2 separate regions of the Homo sapiens genome follow, and region 2 is linked to region 1. The links come from fine-mapping of genetic effects on gene expression. A gene starts in region 1. The other region holds a variant in brackets. All regions are shown on one strand. Distances are between the middles of the regions. Region 1 holds the start of ALDH1L1-AS2 (ALDH1L1 antisense RNA 2). Region 2 overlaps ALDH1L1-AS2 (ALDH1L1 antisense RNA 2).

Region 1 (14,987 bases):
TTGTCCTATTGTGGCTGGGTTAACTCAGTTAGAATAAACTACTCAAGATTCCTCCATGTTGTAATGTGTGTCAGAATTTTCTTCCTTTTTAAGTCTGAATAATACTCCAGAATATTGACTTTTTAAAGATGTTTTTACTTTGCAAAATAAGAAAATGAGAATCTAATATCAGTTACTGGAATGCTGTTGAAATTGCCCTGGCCTATGAAATCAGAACATCTTGTTACCACTGGACAACAGAGTGAAACCCACAGTCTGCACCCCATGTTGTGGCCTCGTGACCCCTGACTTTGCCAGCTTCTCTCCTGCAGCTGCAATGCTTTCTCCTGATTCCTCAAAAACAACCCACATCCCCACCTCCATGCACCAATGCATCATTCTTACATTCTCTCCAACTGGAACGTTTCTTATTTTTTGCTGGTTAAAGTCATCACAGTCTTACTGGGCCTTATCTCCCAGGTGAAGCCTGAAGTACCCAGACCCGCTTTCTTCATGTCTCACCTCTGTGATGGTTCACATCCCCTCCCACCTTTCATATCTGCCACCTGTGCATTCATCTCCCCCATAGAGGTGCGAGCACCTGGAGTAGAGACACCGTCCCTGCCTCCTCTTTGCTCATTTATTCCTTTACAGTGAGTTTCTGGGGGCCATGTGCCAGCCAGGTGCTGGCACCAGCCAGTTTGCATGGGGGTGCAAACACGCAACACCCCCAGGTTAGATTTGGCATGGGGCTGGAGAGGACCTGGCAGGAGCAGGGCTGTAAGCTCTGTGGCCCAGAAGCATTCCATCTATGTCTGCAGGTCATCAGGTGGGCTCTGGTGTGTGGCACAGAGCTCTGTTAAGTCTCATCCCTACCTTCGCCTCTACATGAAAAATTGCATGCAGGCCCTTTAAAGGGGGAAATATGGAGAAAACCATTTTGAATTCTTGGTTCCCACTGGGGAGAGGTTCTAAGGGGTGGGGATCAGGTGACATCATGAGTAACTCACGAGGCAGGGTAGAAGCATCTGAACGAGGCATCCTAGGAGATAAAGAGAAACACTGGCTCCAAAATTAAAACAAAACAAAACAAAACAAAAACAAGCCCAGGTCACTTGGCCTCCCCGCTTTGATTTCCCACAGGCTATGACCTTCAAGTTAATGTTTCCTTTGCAGCGTACACACAGTCCCAGTTACTGATTCCCCAAAAACAAGCTGAATCATCATTATACAACAGAAAGAGAACCCATGTCTATCCCATCCCCCATTCACAGAGCCCTGAGCCAGGCTTGTCTCCTAATCTGCCTCTGGATTGGAGCAGTAGCCCCCATTGTTCTACCCAGACTTGGGCTGTGTAAGTGCACACTGCTTTCCCTGGGAGGACTTAGCCACCAGGGCCCTGCGGAAAGCCCGGGCAGAGGCTCTCTCTGCAGGGCTTATCCAGCCACTGTCACTGCAGGTGCCTCTCCTGGATCAGGGCCTGTGCAGGGCTGTGGGATACACAGATGAAACAGGCCCTGTCCCTGCCCTCAGAGGTGTTGCAGTTGATAAAGAGACAGACACACATATAAATAGTTGCATTAGAGTGTGGTCTGTGCTGTGAGTGAGGGAATTCCCAAGGAGAAGGTTGGGGTCAGGCTTCCCAAAGGAGATGATGCACAAGCCCATCCCTGGGGCACAGGCAGGGCTCAGCTGGTGGCTTCAAGAAGCAGGGCATTCCCGGCACAGTGAACTGAACTGGCAAAAGAGGGTTTCAGTGGGACTCGTTCAGAGAGTATCATATAGTCCTGGGACAGGGACAAGCTGGCTTCTGCCACTGTCTGACCTCAAGCCTCAGCTTCTCTCTCTGGTCTATGAAAGGATGGATTCGGAAATCACACAGTTACTTCCACCATCTTTCATGTGTTAAAAGGAAGTCACTACGTTCAGCCTACATTCAAAGGCAGGGGAATTAAGTGCCACTCCTTGAATGGAAGAGCATCAGAGAGTTTTAAAATGACCACAGTCCACCTACTGGCCACAAACTACTTACATCCTTCCACATGCAAAATACATTCGCCCTCCAAACATCCCCTCAAAGCCTCATCCCACTGTAGAATCAGCTCAATATCCAGAATCTCTGCATCTAAATCAGGCTTTGATGTGGGTGAAGCACCTGGGGTATTATTCCCTCAAGTGTAGCTCCTTGAGTAGAGTTGCTCTCAATCTACAGACTTAGGAATTCCAGAGACAAATTAACTGCGCCTCCCCCCTGCACCCACCTGACATAAACTGGTGGGATAGGCATTGGATAACCACTGTAGACGTGCCTGCTCCAAAGGGAACAAGGACAGGAGGCATGCAGGAGTAACTAGTGTACGGCAATTCTAAAATCTTCCTGGGCGGGTCCTGAAAGTCTCTTGAATAGGACTCAGTCTGACTCTGGCCCCAGAGTGATTCTCCACGCTCTTGGCTCCACCCTTTGGGTTCTTTGTTCTATTCCCCAAGTCATCCCTTCTTTTCCATGAAATGCAGCCCAGGTTCATATCCGTATAGTTTCTCAGCTTGCTTCCTCCCAGAATTTGGGGGAGTCTAGAGGTCTCTTTTCATTTTATATTGTCTCTGACCCTTTCAGTCCAAGTCTACACTGTTTTGCTCATATAATTCTTTTAAAAATGTTGCATGTCTCCTGTAGATCTCACTGAGGTTCATGCCTTTAGACAACTGTCAAACCCACACATCTCTTTGAGAAAAGCCCTTCTCTCTCTTGGGCTTCTGCTGAGACTGCTGTCAAGGACAACTGTAAGCTTCTTAGAAATCCTACTATTTAACAAAATATTCTGAGGTGTCCCTTTGTTCTCTTTGAAGATTTTACAAAAGATCTCATGACCACACTCTTGGCTTCATCTTTAGGCCATCTTCCTTGCACTGGCCTGCATTTGCTCTTTGCCTGGAAGCCATTTGTTAGTTTTAGCATCATATGACATCTGGAGAAGCTGGACATTTTCACAGCCCAAGTTATGGTTCCTTTTTATTTAACAATCCTTCCTTTGGCTTATGTCCCTTCTCTCACATTTTAGTATAAGCAGCAAGAAGAAGCCAGGAGGAGGCACCTTCAACAATCTCCTTAATGAGATCCCCCAGTTCATCTGGTACATTTTCTACTTTCCACATGATTTCGGAACACTTTCTGCTTAAAATTCCCTCCTCTCCTGCTCCATACCTCTAAGAGTATGGATTCCTCTCTGATTTCCTAATACATCTTTTTGGGGTGTCTAACCTCCAAGCCATTGTTCAGTGGTTCCTGTCGCCCATCTGCCTTCTCAATTTTAACTCCCAAGTTCAGAACACACCACTTTCCCATTGCAGGCCCCTAACACTCAGCCAGTTTTCCTACAGATTATATGGCACACCTTCCACACACAGGGCATGCATTCAGCCCTGGGGACTTCCCAGGAGAATAAGCTAGTCTTCGCCATCATTGTCCAGAGACATGTTAATCAAGCAATCCCAGAAGCAGTGATAAAATTGCAGTTGAAGGCAGGGTGCAGTGGCTCATGCCTGTAATCTCAGCACTTTGGGAGGCTGAGGTAGGTGGATCATCTGACGTCAGGAGTTTGAGACCAGCCTGGCCAACATGGTGAAACCCCGGTGAAACGTCTACTAAAAATACAAAAATTAGCTGGGTGTGGTGGCGCATGCCTGTAATCCCAGCTACTCAGGAGGCTAAGGCAGGAGAATCGCTTGAACCTAGGAGGTGGAGGGTCCATTGAGCTGAGATTGCACCATTGGACTCTAGCCTGGGTGACAGAGTGAGACTCTACCTCAAAAAAAAATAAATAAATAAAGTTGAGAGAGGTTCATGAAGAAAAATTACAGGCCTCTCTGTGATCACATAATGGAGGAATCTGTCCTAGTAAGGCTGAGGCTAGGGAAAGCTTCCCTGAAGTCATGGCATTTTAGTAGGAACTTCCTGAAGAATGATGGGGGTTCTCTGGACAAAGATGAACGGCACATGGAAACTTTATGAGTCGAGAAGTTCCACAGATATGAGGGACAGCAGGGAGACCTGCAGGCTGGAGCCTAAAGAACAAGGGGACAGTGCCTGAAAGTAGGCTAAGTGGATCAGCAGGCACAGGCCACCTCAATCCTGGGTGCCCATACTGGCTTATGTGAGCAAAATACATGCATTAAGCCATTCAACAAACATTTATTTAGCAACTGCTACAAGCCATCACTGTGTATTGGGGATACAACAGTGAATACATCTCACAAATTTCCTGTCCTCAAAGAGCTTACAGTCTAGTGGGAGAGACAGACAATGAACAAACAAAGAAACAAGGAAATATCAGATATACAGTTAAGTGCTGTGAAGGAAATAGAACAGGGTGATGTGGCAGGGAGTGGCTGAGGGACTTCCTTAGTTTGTGTGACCTGGAACAGCCTCTCTAAGGCTCTGCATCAGATATCTGATATGTGATACCATATGGGAGCAGGCTCTGAAAGAACACTACAAGTAGAGAGGTAAAGGCAGGGGCTGCAGCAAGCCTGATGTGTTCAGGCACTGAGCAGAGAGAGGGCCAGGTGGTCGGGACTTAGCGAGAGGGTCGCCTCAAAAGAAGTGAGGCTTAGCAGGGCACGGAGCAGTGCGGCCGCAGGTGTGGTGGGAAGGGTGTTCCAGGAGAAGGAGCCACCTGGACACAGGCTTGCAGTCATGAAACAATACGCAATTATCACTCCCGGCATTCTACATGGCCTTGCCTGAGACCGGGCTGGCCAGGATCTCTGGGAACCAGGAGGAGGGGTCTGCGGCACCAGGACTGAGTAGAAGGGAGAGAGTGGAGAAGGGGAATTGCAGAGAGAAAACCAGGGGCTGTTTTTCTCTCGGAGAGGCGGGTAGGCACTGGGCGGGCAGAAGCGCCGCTATCCACCCGGATGCGCAGCTGCTAAGGGGCCGCCTCTGCAAGCGGCTGCAAATTCCCGGAGGGCAGCGTCTCCTTTCGCTCTGCTGTGTCCGTAGCACATGGCAGGTACTTGGCCCATCAAGAGTGAGAGAGGGTGAGCGAGTGAGTGAGTCACCGGCTTGGCGAGGGTCTCCTCTGACCCACTTAGCCTTGCCAGCGCTCAGAACTGCCAGCCCTGCTGGGTGCTTGGGACTTTTCAAAGCCCTGGGAATTCTCCAAGGGTCCACAGTAAGTCTTCTTGACCTAAGCGGGAAAGAGCGCAGGCCCCTGCGGGGTTGGCTTTTACATGGCATTTATAGACCCGCCCGGAGAGGGTGCGCTGCGCTCCCGCCATAGTCCCACCACCGGTGAGCGCCGCCCCCACTCGGCTGACTCTCCGCCCGCCCCGCGCCCCTCCCCTCACGGGCTCTGGCCTTAACCAGAGCTCGCGGACTGGCGGGGACAGGTCCCACCTCCTGGCTCCCAGGACGGGTCTGCACCAACCTCAGTTTCGGGGCTGCGGCTCACAGAAGTCTAACCTGCCCGGGACGCCCGCACCAACTCCTGCGCGCGGTGAGTTTCTGGGCTCTCGAGAGCGCTGGACTCCCGGCGGAAAGGAGGCTGCCCCGGCTGCAGCTCCGGGGGCTCCGGGGGCTCCAGGGGCTCCAGGACTCGGTTCTCACCGCAAGGGCTCCTGCGGGGCCCATCAACTTCGCCGCTGGGACGCCGGGCTCGGGGTACGGGTCCGGAGTTCTTTGGAGCAATTGAGGCTGAACCTGGCCAGGGGTCATCAGGCTAAATGACCGCAGCGCCAGGACTGGCCCGCCGAGGATCTGGCCGGCCGCGGTGGTAGGGCCCTTACGGAGCTGGCGCCAACCTGTGGGGTGGGCACTGCTGGCCCGGCTTATGGAAGAGAAAACTGAGGCTCGATAAGAGAAAGGGACCAGCGAAGGCGACGCGATGATTTGTGACTGGGGACTACCTGTTTCCTGGGCCCCTCGACCCCATTCTGTGACAGGGAAAGGTCTTCCCTGATTGGCCAAATCTGGGGGCCTGGCACGAGGGCCTCTTGTGATTGGAGGGGTCGACGTGAGCGCTCAGGGGCTGCGCTGGAGTCCCAGCTCCAGCCACTGCGCTCAAGTGGACGGTCGCGCGTGCAGAGGGAGGCCGGATAGCAGACCCCACAACGTGGCTCCTGGGGCCCCGCTATCGAGAGCTCAGGCCCCGCGGGCACTTGCCTAGGAGAGGAAAGAATCTTCCCAAAGTGCAGACAGAGACGGAATTTAATCAGGAGTCCCAGACTTGGAGTTTGGAGGCATGGGCTCTGGTGTCAGGTGACTTTGTTTCCTCCCCACGCCTCCACTTCTCCTTGACCTTGGGCAAGTTTCTTGTGTTCTGAATCTTAGTTTCTTGTCTCTAAAATCGGGAGGGGCAATGAACAGTAGTGCCTGCCTCCCAAGATTGCTTGAGAATTACATGAGACTGCCCCGCGCCTGGCCCTAGGAAACCCTCGGAGAATGTTGGCTGCTGTTTGTTTGTTTGTTTGTTTGAGACAGAGTCTCGCTCTGTCGCCCAGGCTGGAGTGCAGTGGCACGATCTCGGCTCACTGCAACCTCCGCCTCCCGGGTTCAAGTGATTCTCCCGCCTCAGCCTCCCGAGTGCTAGAACTGCATTCATGGGCCCCAGGGCCCTAGCACCAGAACAGAGGGCCCAGAGCTGCAGTCCTGCAGGGTGGCCCAGCCTCACAGGGACTAGAAGCTGGGTCCTGGAGAGCCAAGCCTGGGCTGGGAATTGGGTAGGAGGGTTGGGAGGCCCAGGAAGCCTCCCAGTGTCCCCACACCACCAAGTGAAAGGACACTGAGCGGCCATGACTGGGGGAGGAGGTGGAGGCCTGGAGGCGGCCCATACGGCCCACAAGGGGCTCTATGGGCTTCACTGCAGGCCCCTGCTCTTTCTGGGGCCAAAGGGCAAGCCTGATTGAGGCCCCTCCCAAGGCTCCCGTGCCTGCCATTCTGGCTTTCCCTGGACTGTGACAACAGCCCCTTGGTGGCCACCTGGACTCTGCCTCCCTGCAGGGGGGGAACGACATACTCTTTTATTTTTTTTTTTCAGAAGTAATCATGTACAATATAAAAAAAGAACATTCAGTTAAGAAAACAAAATAATTACAGTCGTCAAAAACCTCTGAAACCCAAAACCCTTTACCCAGTAACTTTCAACATTTCAGTGTAAATTCTTCTAGGCTTTTACCCTGCAGATAAACACACGCATGCACACACAGACACACACACACACACACACAAACTTAAGCCTTACACAATTATCGTGGTTTGTTACTTGTTGGGTGTTTTGACAGTGTCAGGTTTGTATAACTCAATATTTACCAATATTTTCTAATAATTTAATGTTTTCTTCTTATATTTGATTTTCAAGTATTTATTTTTAACCCAATTGGACTGTATTTTAGAGTAAGATGTGAACTATAGAGCTAGATTCATTTATTTATTTCAATTAGTAGACATTTTTAGAGCAGTTTTAGGTTTACAGAAGAATTGAGGACGGAGTGCAGAGTTCCCATATTCTCAGTCTGTCCCTTCCTGCGCGCTTTCTCCTATTTTTCTTTCTATTCTTTTCCTTTCTTTTTTTTTTTTTCTTTTTTTTTTTTTTTGAGACAGGGTCTCACTTTGTTGCCCAGGCTGGAGTGCAGTGGCACAAACACAGCTTACTGCAGCTTTGAACTCCTGGGCTCAAGTGATTCTCATGCCTCAGCCTCCCAAGTAGCTGGGACTACAGGCATGCACAACCACGCCTGGCTAATTTAAAAATTTTTTTGTAGAGATGGGTCTCACTTTGTTGCCCAAGCTGGCCTTGAACTCAAGGGCTCAAGTGATCCTCTGCCTTGGCCTCCCAAAGTGCTGGGATTACAGGCATGAACCACTAGGCCTGGCCTCCCCTATTTTTAACATCATGCATTGATAGGATATTTTTGTTACAGCTTTTTTCTTTTTGAAACAGTCTTGCTCTGTTGCCTAGGCTGGAGTGCAGTGGCACAATCTCAGCTCACTACAGTTTCTGCCTCCCAGGTTCAAGCAATTCTTGGGCCTCAGCCTCTCGAGTAGCTGGGATTACAGGTGCACCACCATGCCCAGCTAATTATTGTATTTTTATAATAGTAGAGACAGGGTTTTACCATGTTAGCCAGGCTGCTTTTGAACTCCTGGCCTCAAGTGATCAGCCCGCCTTGGCCTCCCAAAGTGCTGGGATTACAGGTGTGAGCCACCAGGCCTGGCCAATTTTGTTATACTTGGTGAGCCAATATCGATGCAATGTTATTAATGAAAGTCCATAATTTACATTAGAATTCCCTCTTGGTGTTGTACCTTCTATGGTTTTGGACAAACATATAATGATGAGTATCCAGTGTTACAGTATCATAGAGAATAGTTTCACTGCCCTAAAACTCTCCTGTGCTCTACCCATCCACCCCCCAACCCCCCTACCTATCCCTGGCAACCACTGGTTACTGCCTTTGTAGTTTTGCCTTTTCCAGAATGTCATATAGTATGTATGAATCATATGGTATATAGCCTTTCCAGACTGGCTTCTTTCGCTTAGCAAAATGCATTTAAGCATCCTCCATGTCTTTCTGTGACTTGGTAACCCATTTCTTTTTATCATTGACTAATATTCTGTTGTATGGATGTGGAGGTACCACAGTTTATTTCTCCATTCACATACTACAGGATATCTTGGTTGCTTCCAAGTTTTAGCAGTGAATAAAGCTGCTATCAACATTTGTGTGCAGGTTTTTGTGTGGACATTAGTTTTCTTCTCCTTTGAGTAAATATCAAGAGCGATTGATGGATCACATGGTAAAAGTATGTTTCGTGTTATAAAAAACTACCAAACCTTTTTCCATAGTGGTGGCATAATTTTTCATTTCTACCAGTAATAAATAAGAGTTCCTGTTGCTCCACAGCCTCATCAGCATTTGTTGTCAGTGCTCTTAATTTAACTCTTCTAATACGCATATAGTAGTATCTCATTGTTATATTTTAATTTGCAATCTGTAATGACTTACAGTGTTGAGCATCTTTTTAAATGCTTCTCTGCCATCTGTATATCTTCTTTTGTGAATGTCGGTTAATTTACTTGGCCCATTTTAAAATTGGGTTGTTTGTTTTACTGTTGAGTTTTAATAGTTCTTTGTATATTTTGGATAACAGTGCTTTACCAGATATGTCTTCTCTCCCCAACCATGGCTTGTCTTTTCATTCTCTTAACAGTGTCTTTTGCAGAGCAGAAGTTTTAAATTTTAATAAGGTCTAATGTACCATTTTTTTTCCTCCATGAATTGTGCTGTTGTTGTTGTATCTAAAAAGTCAAATCCAAGTTTTGGCAGTTACAAATAAAGATGCTGTAAACATCAGTGTACAGATATTTGTGTGATTTTTGTGCAATGCAGATTTTCTCCATTGTCTTGCCTTTGTCTCTTTGTCAAAGTTCAGTTGACTGTATTGATGTGAGTTTACTTCTGGGCTCTCTATTCTGTTCAATTGATCTATCTGACTATTCTTTTGCCAATACCGTACTGTCTTGATTACTGTAGCTTTATAGTAAAGTCTTGGGGACAGGCAGTATCGGTCCTCTAACTTCGTTCTCCTTCAATATTGTGTTGACTATCCCAGGTCTTTTGTCTCTCCAAATAAACTTGAGAATCAGTTTGTTGATATCCACAAATAACTGCTGGGGTTTTGATTGGGATTGCATTGAATCTATAGATAAAGTCGGAAAGAACTGACATCTGGACAGTATAGAGTTTCCCTACCCATGAACATGTACTATCTCTTCATTTATTTATACATATTTTTATGTTTTCATCAGTTATGGTTATTCTCACATAGATTTTGACCTATTTTAGGTTTATGTATAAATAATTCACTTTTTGGTGCTAATGTAAATGGTTTTGTGTTTTTAATCTCAAATTTCAATTGTTTATTGCTAGTATATAAGAAAGTAATCAATTTTTGTATATTAACCATGACTTTACATCCAGCAACTTTGGCAGAATAACTTATTATTTCCAGTTTTCTGTTGCTTTGTTGGCATTTTCCACATAGCCAATTATGTTTTTTGAGAACAAGAACAGTTTATTTCTTCCTTCCCAATCTGTAGACTTTTCATTTTCTTTTCTTTTCTAATTACATTAGCCAGCACTTCCAGTATAATGTTGACTAGGAAGGGTGAAAGGGAACATCCTTGCCTTATTTCTGATCTTAGGGGAAAAGCTTCTAGTTTCTCTCCATTAAGTATGATGTTAGCTGTAGGTTTTTCATAGATCTTCTTTATCAAGTTAAGTTCCCATTTATTACTAGCTTGCTGAAAGCTCTTATCATAAATGAATGTTAGATTCTTGTCAAATGCATTTTCTGGATCTATTGATGTGATCATATAATTCTTCCTTAGCCTATTCATGCGATGGATTACATTAATTGATTTTCAAATGTTTAACCTAGAATAAATCCCATGTGGTGGTTATGTATAATTCTTTTTAAACATTGTTGGATTCAATTGCTGATTTTTTTGAGGATTTTAACATCTATGTTTATGAGAAATATTGATCTGTTAGTTTCCTTTCTTGTAATGTTTCTGGTTTTGGTACCAGGGTAATTCTGACCCAAGAAAATTAGAGAATTTCCTCTACTTCTATTTTTTGAAAGAGATCATAGAGAATTGGCATAATTTCTTTCTTAAATGTTTAGTCATATTCATTAACCCTAGTGCTTTCTATTTTGGAAGGCTACTGGCTCCAGTTCTTTAATCAGTATAGGCCTATTCAGATTATCTATTTCTCTTTGTGTGAGTTTTGGAACGTTGTACTTTCAAGGGATTGTTTCATTTCATTTAACTTACCAAATTTGTTGATATAGAGTTGTTCATACTAGTATTTTATTATCCTTTTAATGACCGTAGGATCAGTATTGATGGCCCTTCTTTCATTTTTGATATTAGTAATTTGAGTCTTCTCTCTTTTTCTTCTTAGTTAACCTGGCTAGAGGTGTCTCAGTTTTATTCATCTTTTCAAGGAACCAGCTTTAGGTTTTGTTGATTTTCTCTATTGACAGCATGTTTTCAATTTCACAAGTTCTGCTGTAATTTTTATTATTTCCTTTCTTCTGTTTATTTTGGATTTAATTTGCTCTTCTTTTTCTAGTTTCCTAATTTGGAAACTTGCTTTTAGCTCTTTCTTCTTTAATAATATATGCATTCAGTGCTCTAAATTTCCCTCTAAACACTACTTTAGCAGCATCCCATAAATTTTGATGTTATATTTTCATTTTAATTTAGTTTGAAATATTTTAAATTTTTTCTTGAGAGTTATTCTTTGATTTGTTTACATGTTGTTTAGAAGTGTGTCATTTAGTTTCCATTTTTTTAATGTTTTTCAGATATCTTTCTGTTATTGATTTCTAGTGATTCTGTTGTGATCTCAGTAATCTCCATCATAGAAGTCATTGATATTTGTTGTTGTATGTTTTATGGCACAGAATGTGGTCTGTCTTGATGAATATTCCATGTGAACTTGAGAAGAATGTGTATTCTGTTGTTGTTGGGTGAAGTATTCTCTAAATGCCAATTAGATACACTTAATTGATGGTGCTGTTCAACTATGTCCTTACTGATTTCCAGCCTGCTGGATCTATCAGTTAGTGGGTACTGGCCAGGCACGGTGGCTTACGCCTGTAATACCAGCACTTTGGGAGGCCGAGGTGGGCAGATCACCTGAGGTCAGGAGTGCGAGACCAGCCTGACCAACATGGAGGCTCTACTAAAAATACAAAATTAGCCGGACGTGGTGGTGCATGCCTGTAATCCTAGCTACTCGGGCGGCTGAGGCAGGGGAATTGCTTGAACCCGGGAGGCGGAGGTTGCAGTGAGCCGAGATCGTGCCACTGCACTCCAGCCTGGGCAACAAGAGTGAAACTCCGCCCCCCCAAAAAAAACGTTAGTGGGGACTGACAGAGAGGTGTTGATGTCTCCAACTGTAATAATAGTGGATTCATCTATTTCTCCTTAAAATTCTGTCAGTTTTTGCTTTACACATTTTAGCACTGTTGTTAGGCACATACATATTAAGGAGTATTATGTCTGCTGGGATAATTGACTCCTTTACCATTATGTAGTGCTTCTCTTTATTCCTAATAATTTTCCTTTCTCTGAAGTCTGCTTTATCTGAAGTTAATAGAACTACTCCATATTTCTTTTGATTAGTGGTAGCACGGTATATCTTTCTCCATCCCTTTATTTGTAACCTATCTGGTTTTTATGTTGAAATGGGTTTGTTGTAGACAACATATAGTTAGGTCACGATTCTTTATTCACTCTAGATAGTCACATGTTTTAATTGGTATATTTACACCATTGATATTTGAAGTGATTTTTTGATATAGTTGGATTAATATTTACCATATTTATTACTGTTTTCTATTTGCCCTTTGTTTCTTTTTTCTTCCACACTTTTTTCTGCCTTTTCTGATCTTAACTGAGCATTTTATATGATTCCATTTTCTTTTCTCTCTTAGCATATCAGTTTTACTTTTTTGTTGTTGCTTTTTTAGTGGTTGACCTACAGTTTGCAATATACACTTAAATCTAATTTAAGTCTGCTTTTGAATAACACTATACAACTTTATGGGTAGTGTAAGGGCCTTATTGCAGAGTATTCTTGATTCCTCCCTCCCATGCCTTATTATTACTGCTATCATTCATTTCACTTATCCATAAGCTACAATCACTGAATACATTGTTGCAATTATTATTTTGAACAAATTGTTATCTCTCAGATTAAGAATAAGAAAAAAAATTATTTCACATTTATTTCTAATACTCTTTTGTATGTTGAGTTTCTGACTTGTTTAATTTTCCTTTTTTTCTGAATTACTTCTTTTAACATATCTTGTAAGGCAGTTTACTGGTGACAAATTCCTTCAATTTTTGTTTGAGAAGTCTTTCTCCTCCACTTTTGAAGGACAATTTTACTGCATACAGATGGAATCTAGTTAGTTCTAAGTTGATGGAATGTTTTCAGTTCTTTAAATAATTCTTTCTATTCTATTCCTGATTGCATGGTTTATGAAGAGACGTTTGATGTAATCCTCATCTCTCTCCCTCTATAGGTAAGGTGTCCTGCCCTGCCTCTCCCTGGCTTCACTGAAGATTATCTCTGTGTCTTTTATTTTTTGCAGTTTGAATATGATATGCCTAAGTATAGATTTTTTGGGGGGTGGGGGGTGATCTTTATCCTATTTGGTTTCCTCTGAGCTGCTTGGATCTTGGTTTGGTATCTGTCTTTAATTTTGGAAAATTATCAGTCATTATCACTTCAAACATTTTTACTATTCCTTTCTTTCTTTTTATTCCATCTGATATCCCTATTACAAGGATTTACACCTATGGCAATTGTCCCACCATTCTTGGATATTCTGTTTTGTCTTTTTTATTCTATATTTCCCTTTGCATTTCAGTTTGGGAAGTGTTTGTTGATATTTCATCCATCTCATTGATTATTTCCTCAACTGTATCCAGTCTATTGATAAACCTATTAAAGACATTCTTTGCATTTATCACAGGGTTTTTATTTCTAGACTTTTTTTGATTTTTTTCTTAATTTCCATCTCTCTGCTTACATGACCAATTTGTTCTTATATGTTCTCCACATTTTTCCATTAGAGCTCTTAGCATTTTAATTATCATTGTTTTAAATTTTCCATCTGAAAATTCCAACATTGCTTCCATATCTGATTGTGGTTTAGGTGCTTGTTTCATCTTTGCAAACTGTGTTTTTGTCTTTTATATATCTTGTAATTGTTTTGCAGAAAATCAGATATAATGTATTGGGTAAAAGGTACTGAGGTAGATAGGCTTTTAGTGTGAGGTTTGATATTTACCTGTCTAGGAGTTAGAATGTGTTTACTATTTGCTATAGCTGTGGGTATCAGAGGATATAATTTTCTCTCTTCATCTTCTTGTTTTTGTCTACCCTGTTGTCTTTGGGTTTTTGTAGAAACTCCTTAAATAGGCTCTGGCTTGCAGTTCTCTTATCCGTAATCCCCTTGTTACTATACTGGAGCCCTGTGGATGTAGTAGCAAGGTGTTTTGGTGGGGGGAAGTGTTTTACAGTCCTACAATTAGGTCTTAGTGTTTCAGTGAGCCTGCACCCCTGGGCTGTGACCTTCACAAGTGTTTCTCAGTCCTACCCCTTTTAGGTGATGAGAAAGGCTAGAGGGGCTGGATTTGGGTTTTTCCTCATCACTTAGGTTAGTTAGGCCCTGGGTGTCCATTCACTTAGGCTCTGGTATAATAGTTTCTATGAGGGTAGATATGTTGAGAAAAAAATGACTGCTTTCCTTGCCTCCTGCCAAAACCAGAAGGGGATTTTTCTCCAATCCTTACTGTGAGAACTGTAAGAATTAAAGAAAGAGGAAAGAAATACAAAAGCTGGCTTGCCAGTTAAGACATTTATTTTAGAGAAAATCAACCTGAAAGGAGCCTTCTGGCCAAGTTAGGTCAGAGGCACACTCTCTTACAGACTGAGTTTTTAAGGATTCAGGATGGGAGAGTTTATCAGAGGCTTGGACTGCTTCTGTGTCTCTTTGTTGTGCTTATCTGGGAGGGAGAGTTGTGTGCCTGTTTTCATACATTTTTCCTGCAGCTGCAGGTATAGTCCCTGAGTCTGTTTTTACTTATTTATTGAGACAGAGTCTCGCTCTGTCGCTAGGCCGGAGTGCAGTGGCGCCATCTCGGCTCACTGCAACCTCTGCTTCCCAGGTTCAAGCGATTTTCCTGCCTCAGCCTCCTGAGTAGATGGGACTACAGGCATGCGCCACCACGCCTGGCTAATTTTTTGTAGTTTTAGTAGAGACGGGGTTTCACCGTGTTAGCCAGGATGGTCTTGATCTCCTTACCTCGTGATCCGCCCGCCTCGGCCTCCCAAAGTGCTGGGATTACAGGCATGAGCCACCGCGCCCAGCCAAGAGTCTGCTTTTAGCTTTCCTGTCTTAGTGCCCCTGAAGGAAAGGGAATGTG
Region 2 (14,987 bases), 28 kb before region 1:
AGCAGCGCCCAGTGTCCCTCCTCGCCTCCGCGCGGCTGCTGTCCCTGTCCTTCCCTTCTGTGCCTGGCTGGAATCACGAACATGGAAGGCCCGTCTGCCTTTTCCGCTTCAGACTGCAACAGGGCTTTGCTCCAAAGTGCTGGGAAACGGCAGTTCCACTACTAGACAGGTCTGCACCCCAGAGAAATGTGTGTGCGCGTGCACCAAAAACACACGAGAACGCTCACAGCAACCTTATCCCTTCTAGCCCCAGACGAGTGCCCATCAACAGCAGAAGGGGTAGATAAAGCGGGGCTCACCCTCGCAGTGACCTGAACACGGCAGCGAGAGCACACTGCGTGGATGACACACAGCGCCGCGTGGAAGACGCTAAGCTCCGGGAGCCCGCGGTGTGATCCCCTCGCCCCAAAGCGGCGCAAGGGCCCCAGGCGCCAGGCCCTGCGGGGCCCGGGCAGCGCGCGACGCGCTGTCTCTCCACCTGGGGACGGCTGTCCGGCGAAGCCAGTAAAGCTCAGTAAGCTGTAGCTCAGGGGGCACGTCAGGACGCGCACTCCACGCCAAAAAGTTAAAAGAGGTCTGCGCCAGGGAGGCGCGCGGGCGGGAGACCTCGACTCTCAAAGCGCCTCCTCCAGGCTCTCCGCCGCGTCCTCTGGGGCTGGGGCGGAATCCTCGCATCCCCGCCGGGTCTCCCTCCAGGCCGCCGGGCTCCGAGCGGAAGGGCCGCTTCCATGGAGACGGCTTTTTTGAGCTCGGACAAAGCACTCTGGCTGCGGCGAAGGGCCGCGGCCGCCGGGCGGCGCCTTCCGAGGGCGCAGGGCGGACGCGGAGGCCCGAGAAGGCGCGGGGAGGGTGGGGAGGGTGGGGAGGCGAGAGGCCGGGCCTCCGCGTTCCCGTTCGCTGCGGGACAAAGCTCCCTGTCCTGTCCCTTCCTGGGGGCGCCCCTGCCGTGAGAAGCAGAGCCGGCGGTGGGGCCCAGCCCCTCCCAAGGGCGACTCCCCCACCCTCCACAGGCCGGGGCCTGAAGCCGTCACAGCGGGGTTCGCTGCTTCCCATTCAGGCTGTGATGGCCCGAGGCTCGGCGTGGTCTCGCTCTCTTCTCAATTAATCCATTTTAGGGGGACAGGCAATACATTTACATGGTTCAAACACAAAAATGATGGAAAAGTTAGCTTTGAAATACTTGCTTTCCCCCAGCCCTATCGACCCTGTTCTTCGGTGCCCCCTAAAGGCACCTTCTGCTCTTTATCTATCACAGGCTTATGCCAAATGCCAGCAAAAGAATGCAGCAGGGCCACTCCGCTTCTTTGTCACAGCAACCGGAGCCTAGGCTGCCCTTGTTGTGTACCCCTCCCCGCCTCCCTCCTTCCTTCCCTTCCTCCCGCCTTCTTGCTTTCCCTCCCTCCTCTCCTCCTTCCCTCCTTCCTTCCTTCTTCCTTCTCTCCCTCTTTCTTTCCTCCCTTCCTCATTCCTTCCTCCCTTCCTTCCCTCTTTCCTTCCTTCCTTCCTCCCTTCCTTCGTTCCTTCCTTCCCTCTCTCCTCCTCCCTCCCTCCTTCTTTCCTCCCTTCCTCCTTCCTTCTTTACTTCCTTCTTCCTTCCCTCCTTCCATCTTCCCTTCCTCCTTCCCTTCCACCCTTCCTCCTTCCTTCCCTCCTTCCATCTTCCCTTCCTCCTTCCCTTCCTCCCTCCCTTCCTCCCTTCCTTTCTTCTTCCTTCCTCCCTCCTTCTTCTCTCCTTCCTTCTTTCTTCCTTCCCTTCTCCCTCCTTTCCTTCCCTCCTTTCCTTCCTTCCTTCCTTCCGTCCTTCCTTCCTTCTTCACTCCCTCCCTTCCTCCCTTCCCCCTCTCCTTCCTTCCTCAGTCCCAGAGCCCTTTCCATAGGCCTGCACAGAGCTTTTTCATTCTTTCTGACATCCGCCTCAAGTGCTCCAAGGTGTACCCATGATCTTTTCAACGGACACCCTGTGGATAGGAACTTGGGCTGTGTGCTTGCCATTTTGTGCTCATACAGGTGTATCTATAGGGTCAATCTCCCCTGTTTTTGACATCCTGACCTACCGCCCGCTGACCCTCCAGCCCCACCATGGCAGTGTATCCAGTGTCAACTACCTGGAGACTTGCCAGGGCTATAAGTCTTGTGGCCCTGACTTCCTGGCTCAGCAGCCGTGAGTCTCTGCCTGCAGGGGACTCCTGCTGAGAGAGGACTTGACTGACCAGATCTGCCTCCTGGGCAGGCCCCTTAGATGGGACCTTGTGTGAGCCTTTGGTTTCCAAGGACCAAACCATGGAAGGCTCAGAGTGACTAAGAGGTTCAAAGACTCTTAGGCAGTGAGGCCCACAGGAGGTAGGAGCCCCCAGCGGTGTGATGTGGGAGCCGGGTCAGATGCAGAGGCGGAGGACGGGTGTGGATAGGGGCAGGCTGGAGGGGCTTAGCAGGGGGACCCCACACACTGGGCTGCCAGCCTGCAGCCTCCAGGGCCAAGTGTGAGGCCTGTGGGTGTGGGGGTCCTGTGTGTAAGGCCTTTGACTTCACCTGTGTGAGAAATGAATATCTCAGCCAGTGGGTGAGCTCTGTGTCCCACCCAAGCATGAAGCCCACTTTCTAATCTTCATGTGAACTTCATGATCCATGATGGAAGCTGATCATGATGGAAGCTGCCTGTGACACCTTATTCCTATCAGTATCCAATCAGTATCTGTCAAGCACTGTGGGAGGCTGTGCAGTTATTCCCAAGTTGTTCCCTGGAGACGGAGCTTCCCGGCCCTCGTGACTCAGTCTCTGCCACGGGCAATGAGCAGTGTGGCAGATGTGGCAGCTCCAGGCGCCATCGGTGGCTGCACTGTCGCTCTTTCTCCCTTGGCAGCAGCCTGGCACGTCTGGTAGGGGCTGCTGCATCAGCCTTGATTCTGGAATGAAGCTGACATGGATCAAGACCCAGCCATGCTGAGAGAGGCATAAATATGCGAGAGAAATAAACCTTTGTTATTTGAAGTCCCTAGGACGTGGGGTCGTTTGTTCTTTGGTATGACAGCTTAAGCTGGCCCATACAAGCTCTTACTCCGGCCAGGCATAGGACATAGAGCAGGGAATGGGACAGACGTGGTCTCTGCCCCTGTGGAAACATGAGGACCTGGGGAATGGCCACTCCCCCTGGCAGAGAAGCCTGGAGAAAGCAGGATTAGGGCAAAGGTCTGGAGTTCTGTCTTCAGTGTGCTAAGCTGAGGCGTCAACAAGATAGCCAAAGAGAATTGCCAAGTGTATGGTCAGGTGCACACATCTGCAGCTCAGGAGAGAGGCTTGGTGTGTAAATCTGGGCATCAATGGAACATGGATTGCCAGCGAGGAGCTAGGCACTGTGGGAAAGGAGGTAGCTCACACCCCTCAACCCCCACCACACCACGGTTTGGCCATTGGTTTGTTCCTGAAAAACATGAACCTTTTGGAAATCCACAAAAGTCTCCTAAGGGAAGAAGAAATGGGTGGGAGGAGACTTGCCATCGCATGTAGAATGTGGATTCAGGCTGCTTGTTTTTTAAATTATGAAATAGAAACCCCTGATAATTGAAGGACTTGGGGATATTAGAGTTGGAGGTATTTGAGTTCATATCCCAACCCCCTTAAAGTAGTGTTTCCAAAATTGGGTGTGCATATCACTGGTAGTACACAAGTTGATTTTAGGGGACATATGAAATCTGTTATTTTATAGTTGTGCTATTTTGTTTAGTTACCCTTTGTTTACGGCATGTGATACTGGTTTTCCATCTTCAGTGATGATATGTGCAAGTTACAGAAAGATATTTAAACAAAGGCAATAATTTGATTTAAAGGAAACTTTTAATAATCGCACATATATTGTATAAATATGCCATGAAAACTAAGTGACTCAAGTTTGAGAAACACTTCTTTAAAGGTAAATTCTGATGCCTGCATGCAACAGATGACAAGGGGGGTACGGTGTAGTTTAGTGGCCTGGCCAAGGGCCCTGGCTACTCCATGGTGCTACTGGGATACACAGCCAAACCCGGGAAGATGGTCCATGTCCTCCGAGGCCAGCTGGAAGGGCTTGTCCAGTGAGGCAGCTACAGGGCTGGGCCTGGAGCCCAGGGCTTCCCAGTGGATGCTACTGCTCAGCCCTCCTGGCCCACATCTCTTAACTCACTTGGAGGGGGTCCCTCCTGGAGGCAGGATGCCCCTTCACACCCTTATCCTCCCTTCTCATTTTCCAACGTGGCCAGCAAGTGCTTTGATCTCTCTTGGAAATGTCTCTGGCCTCCTGACTTTAGGAATGAAAAATGTCCACACCGTGGCCTGGTGGGGGTGGGGTATGAGTGTTAAAAATCAGTCTTCCAAGTGGAAAAATATTTGATGGGAATTTTGACAAACAGTTGGGGAAGGATTAGGATAAGAATGAAGTGATTTATGGAAATGAAACTATGGCCGAAAAATTCAAATTTTTTTTGTCAGCATTCCAAATGACAAAATTATTTCATCACTAGACCTCGCCAAGGCTTTCTGAAAGTTGAATACCCATTGGTCTTCCAGGGTCCAGCTCATGCCCTGCACCAAGAGTAGGGATGGGCGAGGAGGGTGTGACCCAGCAGAGAAAGTTTCAGTTTGTGAGCAAACACCTGTCATGTCCAGGAGGCCTGGAGACCTTGTGGCTCTTGTCACATGATGAAGGGGTTGAAGAAATTCATCTACACACTGTGGAACCCGGACTCAGCCCTGGACCACAACTTTCCCTCTGTCATTCATTGGCTGTGACACTGAGAGATCAATTTCCCCTCTGAGCCTCAGTTTTTCCATTTGCAGAATTGGGGAAGGAACCCCCTCCCTCTTGGGTTTGTTGTGCGAAGGCAATGAGGTGTTTCCCATGTGCAGCTGTGAACACCATGAGAACACATGCCACTCCCCATCTTCCCAAGAGCCTTGACGCCTTCTGCATGGGCATGTCTTCCACCGCAAGCAATAGAAACTGTGTCTGGTTGACTGGAGCAAGAATTGGAGAGGATGTGGGTAGCTCTCAGAATCAAAGAAAAAGTGCAAAATCAACCCATAAGAGCCAGCGTGCAGACAGTCCCCTCTTAGGAACTGAGGGACACTCCTCAGGGAGCCATGGCAGCAGCACAGCAGGTCAGCTGTTTCCGTCTTGGCATGGCTCCACTATGACTCAGCGTCCTGGGGGAACCAGAGTCTGATTGGCTTGGCCCGTGTCCCAGCTCCTCGCCCAGGAAATGCCTCAATTGATTGTTACACCAGGACTGCATGCAACATAGACTTGTGCCCTAGAGCCAAATCAGTGAGTGCCATCAGAAGGACCGGGCATGGGGAATGAAAATAAACCACCACCGCCAACAAAAAAACGGGGGAACCAACCATAAATTCCTTCCGCTGAATGTTGGAGCCCATCTTTTCATTTGCATGATCCACCCTCTCCATTCTGTGTCTTCCAGTTGCAGCTACTCTTCAAGGATCACTAAGGACCATTCCACCTACTGAACAGTGATCACAGCATCAGTGTGTTAACTTCTGCTGTGAGCACCAATCTTCACATTCTCCAAAGTGCTGTGTGATTGCAGTTCCTATCATATCCACTCTTGTTGGCTTTTCACACGTACTGATGAGCTGTCAAGGCAGGAGATCCCCCATTTCCAGGGCCCTACAGAGGTTCAGATGAGAGAAGAGACAGGAAGTGAGTGACCTAAGCTCATAAGGCTTGTACGTGATGGAGCTAGGGCTTTACTTACTAATTTTAGGAATTTTTCTGTTTATTCTCTTGAGACTTCTGCAGATCAAAATCATTGTATCTGAAAATAGTAATGTTTTATGTCTTCTCTCTTAATAATTATGTATTCTATTTTGTTTTTATTTTATTGCACTACTAAAAAATTTTACAATAAAAAAGTGACAGCTGATACCTCTATTTATTTCCTGGACTTGATGAGCGTGTTTCTCAGGTTCTGCTGTAAAGCACAATGTGTAAAGTATGTAAAATGGTAATACTTGGCATACAGTAAGTGCTACATAGGTGTTAATATTTGCATCACTCTGTAGTTCTGAACTCATCTGCCTAACAAGCACAGCCTGCCCCCACTATCCCTCCTGTGCCCCAGACATGGGTATAGCTGAAGAGGGCCTTGGTTTGGTTTGATTCCATCATGTATGCACTCAGTGGAGACTCAGTAAGTGTTTATTAACTTAAAATGCATGCCCGAATGAACGAATCAGTCCATTGAGTTCTAGCGGCCCTTACCTGGGACACGCTGGCCTCATGGCCAAGGAAAAGAGCTTGCGGAACCAGGTGATGATTTTTAAAGCTTGGTATGGATAGTCTCCAAAGACAGTCACCATCAATTTCTTTCCTCCCTGTATGTGCTGGATGATTCTTACACCAAGTACTGGAATCTTGCCTTTGTCTTACTAACAAAGTCTGGACTAACCTTAGTGACTTGCTTAACCAATGGATTGTGATGGAAGTAACATTCTAGGACTTCTGAGGCTGGGCTTGTAAGATGCCTGGATCTCTTGATAATGTTCCCTCCTGGAATTTAGCTGTCAGGCTGTGAGAATCCCAAGCCATGTGGAGATGCCATATGTGAGTGCTCCAGTGAAGAGCCCCCACTGAGGCTCCAGGTGACAGTCAGAATCCACTGCTCACTGTGCGACTCGGCCATTTTGGACATCCGGCCCAGCTGAGCCTTCAGGTGGTGTGCAGCCGCAGCCAGAAACTGACTA[C/T]CACACATAAGAAACCTAAGAAAGAACTACCGCACCCAGTCCACAGGGCCATTACATCATAATGAACCATTATTTTAAGCCACTCTGTGTTGGGATGGTGTTTTTGTTTTGTTTTGTTTTTTTGTTTTATTTTGTTTTTTGTGAGACAGAGTCTTGCTTACAGGCTGGAGTGCAGTGGCGCGATCTTGGCTCACTGCAAGCTCCACTTCCTGGGTTCACGCCTTCTCCTGCCTCAGCCTCCCGAGTAGCTGGGACTACAGGCGCCTGCCACCATGCCTGGCTAATTTTTTTTTGCATTTTTAGTAGAGACGGGGTTTCACCGTGTTAGCCAGGATGGTCTCGATCTACTGACCTCGTGATCTGCCCACCTCGGCCTCCCAAAGTGCTGGGATTACAGTGGGATGGTTTTAAAAGCAGTAACAGATACCCAGAGAGCTTCTGCTTAGAAGGCACACATCACTTCCCTGCTCAGAATCCAGCACTGAACTCCCAATTTATTGGTCAAGAAGTGATGTCCACAGGGCAGAAAAATATGGGCATTCCTCAAAGACGTAGCAAGTATTTAGGGATAATAGTAAGAGAATAAAGTGGCTGGATATAAAATAAACACAGTGATAAGTTGCATTTATATATACTTGCAACAACCCTTTACAAAATAAAGTGAACAAAGATCTCTTTTACAATCACAATAAAAATAAAATATCTAGAAACAACATTAGTGCCTTGGATACATCTAGTTCCTAGTACAATCCCCCAGGGAGGCTGTGAGAAGTTTTGTAATGAGCTTGTTAACAGAGATTGTATATTGGGAAATTTCCAGCAAATTTGCAAATTGGCATACTACTTCTGCCAAATGACTAAAAATGTTCTGTTGAACTGCTAAAACTTTCCTGTGTATGTGCTGAGGTTGTGATAAAATGGCAAAGTAGGATGGCTGGTCTGATTGGACTCCAATTGAAACATTCTCTCAAGTATGTGCTAAAGCAAAAAGCATGAAGTCAGCTGCAAGTGAACAAGTTGTCAGGCTTGTGCCTCAGCTTCCATGAAAGGAGCTGGCAGAGGCAGCCCTGCTGACCTCTGAGCTTTGCACGACCTGGGTGTCCAGCATAGATCTGGGTATGACCTCCAGGAGGAGGCAGGCAGCCTTCAGGGCTGCAAGCTTCTGTTAGAAGCTTAGCAAGCGTCTCTGACCATCACTTCCTCTGGAAATGTATTCTTTAATAAACCATTGCATTCATGAGTGAAATTGAATAAACATCCCAGGATTCTCAATCTTTGGGAAAAAGCTCATTCTAAAGTCACAAATTGTCTCACTAGAGAAAAATGCCACTGTATGCAGTACACACAAATGATTACATACTGCTTCTAATGGTTACTGACTCTGTGACCCTTGTCCCCAAGCCCCAAGTTGAGAAAAGCTTGTATTTTAGAGGTTTGAATGACAAGGGGAGGGAAAGGATAGGGAGATGAGACAATCCCTCCCCAAGATGAACCCTTCCCGCAGGTGTGTCCATCTCCTAGGTGCAGCCACCTCCCAGGTGTACCTTTCTCCCAGGTATACCCTTTCCCCAGGTATACCCACTCCCCAGGTGTACCTTTCCCCTAGGTACACCCTTTCCCTAGGTGTACCTTTTCTAGGTGCACCTTTTCCACAGGTACTCCCTTCCCCCAGGTGCACCCACATCCCAGGAACACCCTTTCTCCAAGTGTACCCACTCCCTAGGTACACCCTCTCCCCAGGTGCACCCACTCCTCAGGTATACCCTTCCACCAGGTGCACCCTCTCCCCAGGTGTACCCTTCCCCCAAGTGCACCATTTCCCCAAGTATACCCACTCCTTAGGTGCACCCTTCCCCCAGGTGCACCCTCTTCCTAGAGGCACCCACTCCCCAGGTGCACCCCCTCCCCAGGTGTACTCTTCCCCCAGCTGTGCCCTCTCCACAGATGTACCGTCTCCCCAAGTGCACCTACTCCCCAGGTGAACCTTCTCCCAGGTGTACCAACTTGCCATGTGTACCCTTCCCCCAGGTGCTCCCTCTCCCCAGTTGCACCCTTTCCTGAGGTACACTCACTCCCCAGGTACACCATTCCCCCAGTTGTACTTTTCATCCAGGTGTGCCCTTCCCACCAGATGCTCCTCCCCCTGGTGTGCCCTTCCCCTGGGTGTACTTGACTCACTTTCCTTCAGTAGGTTTCCGCTCAGTTATCACTCTATCATGAAGCTTCCCTCACCACTCTGTTTAAAATGCAACCTCCCTCAACTCTCCCTCTCCTCTCCCCTACTTTATTTTTCTCCATTTCATATAGCTGATAATTCCCATCTTTATTATGCTTATTGTCTGTTCCCAGTCAGGTAAGTCCTATGTGGTGTTTTTTTGAAATTTTGTTCTTTGCTATATCTCAGTGTCTGGGACAGTGTCCAACATATCCTAGGTGCTCAGTACACATTTATCAAGAGAATGAATGGATTGGACACATCCATCTCCCTTCCCTGACTCTGAACTTCTGGAGCACAGGGACCCTGCCTTTTTCATCCAGGCCAATACATAGCAAGTGCTTGTTTAAATGTTGGTTGAACTCAGTGGCCCACCCATTACAACATAAAGACACCAATACTTTCAGGAAGCTTCAGCGAAAAACCCTTATAGAAAAAACTCTCCCAGGTGTATGCCCTCTGCACCAATTGCAAAGCTCTCGACCTCATTAAAAAGCATTTCATTAGAAGGTGACTGATATGGTTTGGATTTGTGTCCCCGCCCAAATCTCACCTCAAATTGTAATCCCCAATGTTGGAGGAAAGGCCTGGTGCGGGGTGATTGGATCGTGTGGCCAGATCCCCACTGTTGCTCTTGGTATAGTGAGTTCTCATATCTGGTTGTTTAAAAGTGTGTGTCACCTCCCGCCTCTCTCTCCTCTTCTTCCTTCTCTGGCCATGTAAGATGTGCCTGCTTTCCCTTTGCCTTCCACCATGATTGAAAGTTTCCTGAGGCCCTCCCAGCTATGCTTCCTGTGGAACCATGAGCCAATTAAAACTTCTTTTCTTATAAGTTACCCAGTCTCAGGTAGTTCTTTATACAATGCGAGAACAGACTAATACAGTGACCTCATTGGGATTTATGCAATCTTATCAGAAATGAAATTTCACAAGTCCACAGTATCAGTGCCATGGGGAACCTAAGAATCCCGGAAGTCAAGGGCAGCTCTTTGCCTGTCCTGAGCCCTCAGCACAGGGAATCAGTGCTGTAATTGAACTCACTGGAGTAACCCTATAAATGGAGAGATGGCCGCGTGTGAGTCTAAGCAGAACTGGACTTGGCAGGGAGGACCCAGGCAGCCCAGGGACACGGTGCCCATGTTCCCGTTTCCTGTAGAACTTTGCAAGCATGATACCCATCTCTAGCATGAGCCATCAGGGCCCCAGCATGGACCTGAAATCAGAGCCTGCAACCCCCGTGTCTCCCTCCTTCTCTTTCTCAGCCTACATCCCTGCTTCCTTAGCCATCAGGCCCTGCTAGGGAGGCTGTCCCAGCCCTACCTGGCCTGACCTTTGGGGCCTGAGAGGGTAAGTCCAGCCTAGGTGTGTGTGTGGGGGGGTGGGGTAGACAACAGCCAACTGCCTTAGGAGCAGGTTCCCTACACACAGACCCCTGCTCCCTGAATGTGGCAGAGGGATATCCAAGGACGTGTATGTGTTTGCCTGTTCATTAGCTCACTAAGCCCTGCCTTCTGCAGACACCCTGGTGGTGCTAGGTGTACAAGGATGAGACAATGGACCTCCCCTTCTGCACCTGAAGTGGGCCTGCTGCACACATCCAACAAGAGTGGAAATACCAAACACATTAATAAGTGCTTCCAAATAATACGCTTGCACAGCTATTGCCCAATGAGTAATTTCTGATATGCTCTGCGGAGTGTTTGTCAGGACAGATGAAGATTTATTCCTTGTGCCAGCCCCCTTCTCTGCATTTTCCCTTTCTCCCCAACCCTCCAATCTCCCAGTACGGATGTAGTAAAATATTGATAAATTTTACAATCTATTATACATTAGTAGTCTATTAAGACTATGTACCACACTGCAAACGCAATAGTAGTATATGGTGGGGTTTTTTCCTAGTCCAACTTTTTGTTTCGCTTAGAGTTAGTGATGACCTCATTTTAAAATTTGCTTCATTTTGGTGCACTGATCTTTATTTATTTTTTCAAAATGCTGCATTAGACCTGTCAAGTACATGGCCATATCCTTTATAAGGTGCCTCATCTTGCAGACTCTGTCAACCCCACTGTGCCCCAGCACCTCTGCCTTGCTGCACAGGACCTCTGGCTGCCCAGCCTGCAGGCATCCTGAGACTGACTGTAGCCCGTGTCCTGTACCAGTACCCGCCCCCACGGCTCCTGCATCCAGATCTTGCTGTTCCTTTGTTTGTTCTGTTTTTTTTTTCTTTTTTTTTTTTTTCTGGATTGCGTGCTCCAGTGGCTTCTAAAAAAGAGTTTTGAGGAAGGGGGCATATTTTCAGTCCTTCTTTGAGTTAACAAGTGCTCCTGTTTCATTGTCTCATGTTTCATTGGGAATAAAATATTTAAAAGTGGGTTCCTGTCTTCCTTTCAAGTGCAGCACCACCTTTTTCCAAGATGCTGTTGTTATTTGCATCCTAGTTTCCTTGTCCAAGAGCTGTGTGGATGTGGTTGTCAGCATCTCTCCTTTCCCTTTCTCATGAATGTCTGCTTCGCAACTCATCCTTAGTGGGCATGAGGCCAGTCTTTGCCATCTGGGTGTCCTGGCCCTTCAAGTCTGAAATGGAACTGGCTGAACTTCCCACCTGCTGTGGTGGAGTCTGGGGCCGTAGCTAAGAAGGCACAACACTGTGATTGTCTGAGAATGTCTGCAATTGTCTGTGATTGAACGCTGTGATTGTCTGAGAGTGTCTCAGTTCAGTGGTCAGTCTATTCCCTACATGTCTAATAAATGAAAAAAGTTTCATACAGTAACTGGAAGTCAACTAGAATATATGCGACTTCACTTATTGTTCAATGTTGGGTTGATTCATGGGTGGATTTTCTAAACCTTTCATCTTTTATGGGTTGATTTTCTAAACCTTTTATCTTTTATGTTATTTTCCATTTATTCATCATTTTAATCTAATTTTTGGAAGGTGTTTCTAACTTTATATTTCAAACCTATTGAATGTCATTATTTCACTTATCTAATTATCTTCTTAGAATCTTTCTTGTTTTCAAATTATTTTTTTATTGAGACCAAAGAAGCTACATAAAATGTTACAAGCCTAAATTTGAACTGAAAGTTTCAATATCAATTTCATTTTGTTTTTGTTTTTAGAGACAGAATCTCACTCTGTCACCCAGGTTCAAACTCCTGGGCTCAAGCCGTACTCTTGCTTCAGCCTCCTAAGCAGCTAGGACTACAGCTGCATGCTGCCATGCCTGGCTAATATATTTTTTAAAAAATCTGTAGAGACTGTTTTGCCCAGGCTGGTCTTGAACCCCTGGCTTCAAGTGATTCTCCCACCTTGGCCTCCCAAAGTGTTAGGATTACAGGCGTGATGCTTGAATAGTAACAAGAGTTTTTGCAGGATAGTAACAGGCCTTCAGTTCTGTACACAAACAACAGTAATAGCAATTGCCTCAGGGAAGTCCAAAGAGGGTGAGTGGGTTGTTAACTTTTTCTCTATTCATTTTTGGATTGTTTCGTGTTTTATACCAAGCACATATTCCTTTTGTAGTTAATTTTAACCTTATAATAATTTCTGTTTACAGATCTTACATGTTGTGTTTAATGGGTTTTGGCAGTTTCACAACCTGCACAGCCACCATCTCGAACAAGCTAGAGGACATTTCATTGCACCAAGAAATATCCTGGGGTTGCTTTCCGGTCAACCCCACCCTCACCCAGTGACTGTGCTGACTTTTATTACCATACATTAGTTTTATCTGATCTCAAACATCCTGTAGAAAAGTCACACAGCATGTACTATTTTGAGTCTGGCTTCTGTCACTTAACATAATATTGCTGCATGTATTCCTTCCTTTTTATTAATAAATAATACTCTACTGTATAAAAGTATTAATTTTTTTATTCATTCTCCAATTGGTGGGCATTTGACTTGTGTTCAGGTCTTGACTATGGTGAATAGGCTGCTGTGAACATTCTACAAGTCTTTGTGTGGATGTATATCTTCATTTCTCTTGGGTAAAATACACAGAAGTGGAATGGCTGGGTCAAAGAGTGCATAGTTAATTTTTAATAACATAATTTGAAAAATAAAGCAAAAAGCTACAGCAATTACAAAAGGTGGTGGCCAGCCCAGGAATAAGCAAACACCAACTGCAGAGAATGGAGAATATAAGAATGTGTGTGCTTCCCATCTTCAGCCTCAAGCGGGCCCTCATGGCCACAGCCACCTCAGGAACCCTCCTTAGAACTCTTCAGTAACATTTGTAGGGGCCATTGATTTGAATCAGGCTCCTCTCCTGCATCCAGCAGACCAAGCCAATATGGAGTCACTCATGCTAAATGTCACTAATTTCCTTAAGAGTATACTAAGGCAACAAATAGCTGAGTTTGGTTAGTTAAGGCTTGAGCCTTATGTCATAGTAGGCAGTCAGCCGACCCAGTGAGATAAAACGCTGAGCTGTAGCCAACTTAGTTGTTCTTTTTGCTCCATGTTGGTTTTCTGTTCATAAATGCTGTCTGACCATGTGGCAGGCAGGAGTTCTCTGAACTTGTTCTAGTTCTAAGGGCTGCCCAGCTTGCAAGTTTTTTTCCCCTTAAATAAACCTGATAAATTTAAGCTTGCCTGAGGTTTTCCCTTTTCAACAGATCAGTGAATGTGAAGAAACTCAAAGAGGAGCATAGTGACCCCCAGGAGCAGGGGGTGGCAAAGCAAAGGCACCCACCAGGCCCATTGTGCCCACTGATCCCCTGGAACTGGGGATGGTGGATTGAGCCCTCTCGGATTCTGAGCTCCACTCATTCGGGTTCTGAGCTCTCTGAGCTTATTTGAGAAATTTGATCCAGACTGGGTTCAGAAATCTTCAAACTGGACTGGATCCTATAGAGGTTTCAGATGTCTGGCTGGGTCAAGAAGAAACTGAACTGGGTGTGGTAGGTAGGGTTCCTAGGAGATAGGGAATCATGGGTTCACTGGGATCCAAGGAGCTTAGAACTCCCCCATCTGGGACTCTAGTCAATTTCTTGTATATGAACTATGGACCCAGAATCAGGGCTTTTCTGGAGAAATGGGTGAGCCTTACCAAAAATAATTTAGAGTTACAGCAGCCACAGTGGGGAAGTTTGTTTGCTTGTTTGATGAGACAGAGTTTTACTCCTTTTACCCAGACTGGAGTGCAATGGTGCGATCTCGGCTCACTGCAACCTCTGCCTCCTGGGCTCAAGGGATTATTCTGTCTTAGCCTCCCAAGTAGCTGAGATTACAGGTGCACACCACCCCCCGCCCCCAGCTAATTTTTGTATTTTTTGTAGAGATGGGGTTTCACCCTGTTGCCCAGGCTTGTCTTGAACTCCTGGTCTCAAGTGATCCATCCCCCTCAGCCTCCCAAAGTGCTTGGATCACAAGGATGAGCCACTGTGCCTGGCTGAGAAGTTTTAATTTAGATAAAATTGTTTATTTTCAGGGAAAAATTAGAAATACAAAGAGAAAAAACCCACAAGAACAACGGAATGCATTTTTAATTGGTATGCAGAAACATGTAAAAGATTAAACAAAGAGTGTCTGACTTAAAGGTTTCTTCCCAGGAGACAAATAAAAAGCTTAATCAGCAAACTGAGGACCAGAGGAAGGAGGACTGCCGCTCATTGAATTGAATTAACTCTGACTGCTCCTTGCTGTCTTTGCCATTACTTCAATACCCTGAGTCCACTGATTGTTTTGCTCAAGTACCTTTCCATCTTGAGGAAAATGAAAAGGAGAGGTTGGACAACTGTCTTACAAAGTGAGACCCTCTGAACACCTAGGCCTGCCTGCTGTAACCACTTTTACTCCATGCTCTGAAGCTGAACTTAGAGCCTTCATAAGATACTTTCCTGATGCAAGAGAAAATCCTCAAATGTTTACCTAGGAATTTAGAATCCCCATAGGAGCTTATGATCCAGGAACTTCTGACTTTATCAATTTATTCACTTGATTTTGGGACTTGGTAAAGCTCAAAGGTGTATGAAAGCAGCAGAATAGAGAGAACCCGAGGGGATATTAAAGACCTTAAAAAACCTTCTTGCTACA

What was found.
Region 2: its variant is fine-mapped to the expression of ALDH1L1-AS2 in testis (GTEx, PIP above 0.99).

What each region holds. Positions count from the first base shown.
Region 1 is chr3:126,170,963-126,185,949 of GRCh38, reverse strand. It overlaps ALDH1L1-AS2 (ALDH1L1 antisense RNA 2), which reads right to left and starts at 5,885. Exons shown (of 2, transcript NR_046383.1): 1 at 5,406-5,885. It overlaps ALDH1L1 (aldehyde dehydrogenase 1 family member L1), which reads left to right and starts at 5,364. Exons shown (of 23, transcript NM_012190.4): 1 at 5,364-5,474. RefSeq lists enhancers at 1,050-1,344, 4,195-4,948, 4,949-5,704.
Region 2 is chr3:126,198,995-126,213,981 of GRCh38, reverse strand. ALDH1L1-AS2 (ALDH1L1 antisense RNA 2) reads right to left here. Exons shown (of 2, transcript NR_046383.1): 2 at 3,813-5,656. LOC124909426 (a long non-coding RNA gene) reads right to left here and starts at 950. Exons shown (of 3, transcript XR_007096060.1): 1 at 1-950. RefSeq lists enhancers at 1-475, 4,654-5,853. The variant C/T (reference allele first, on the strand shown) is at 6,733.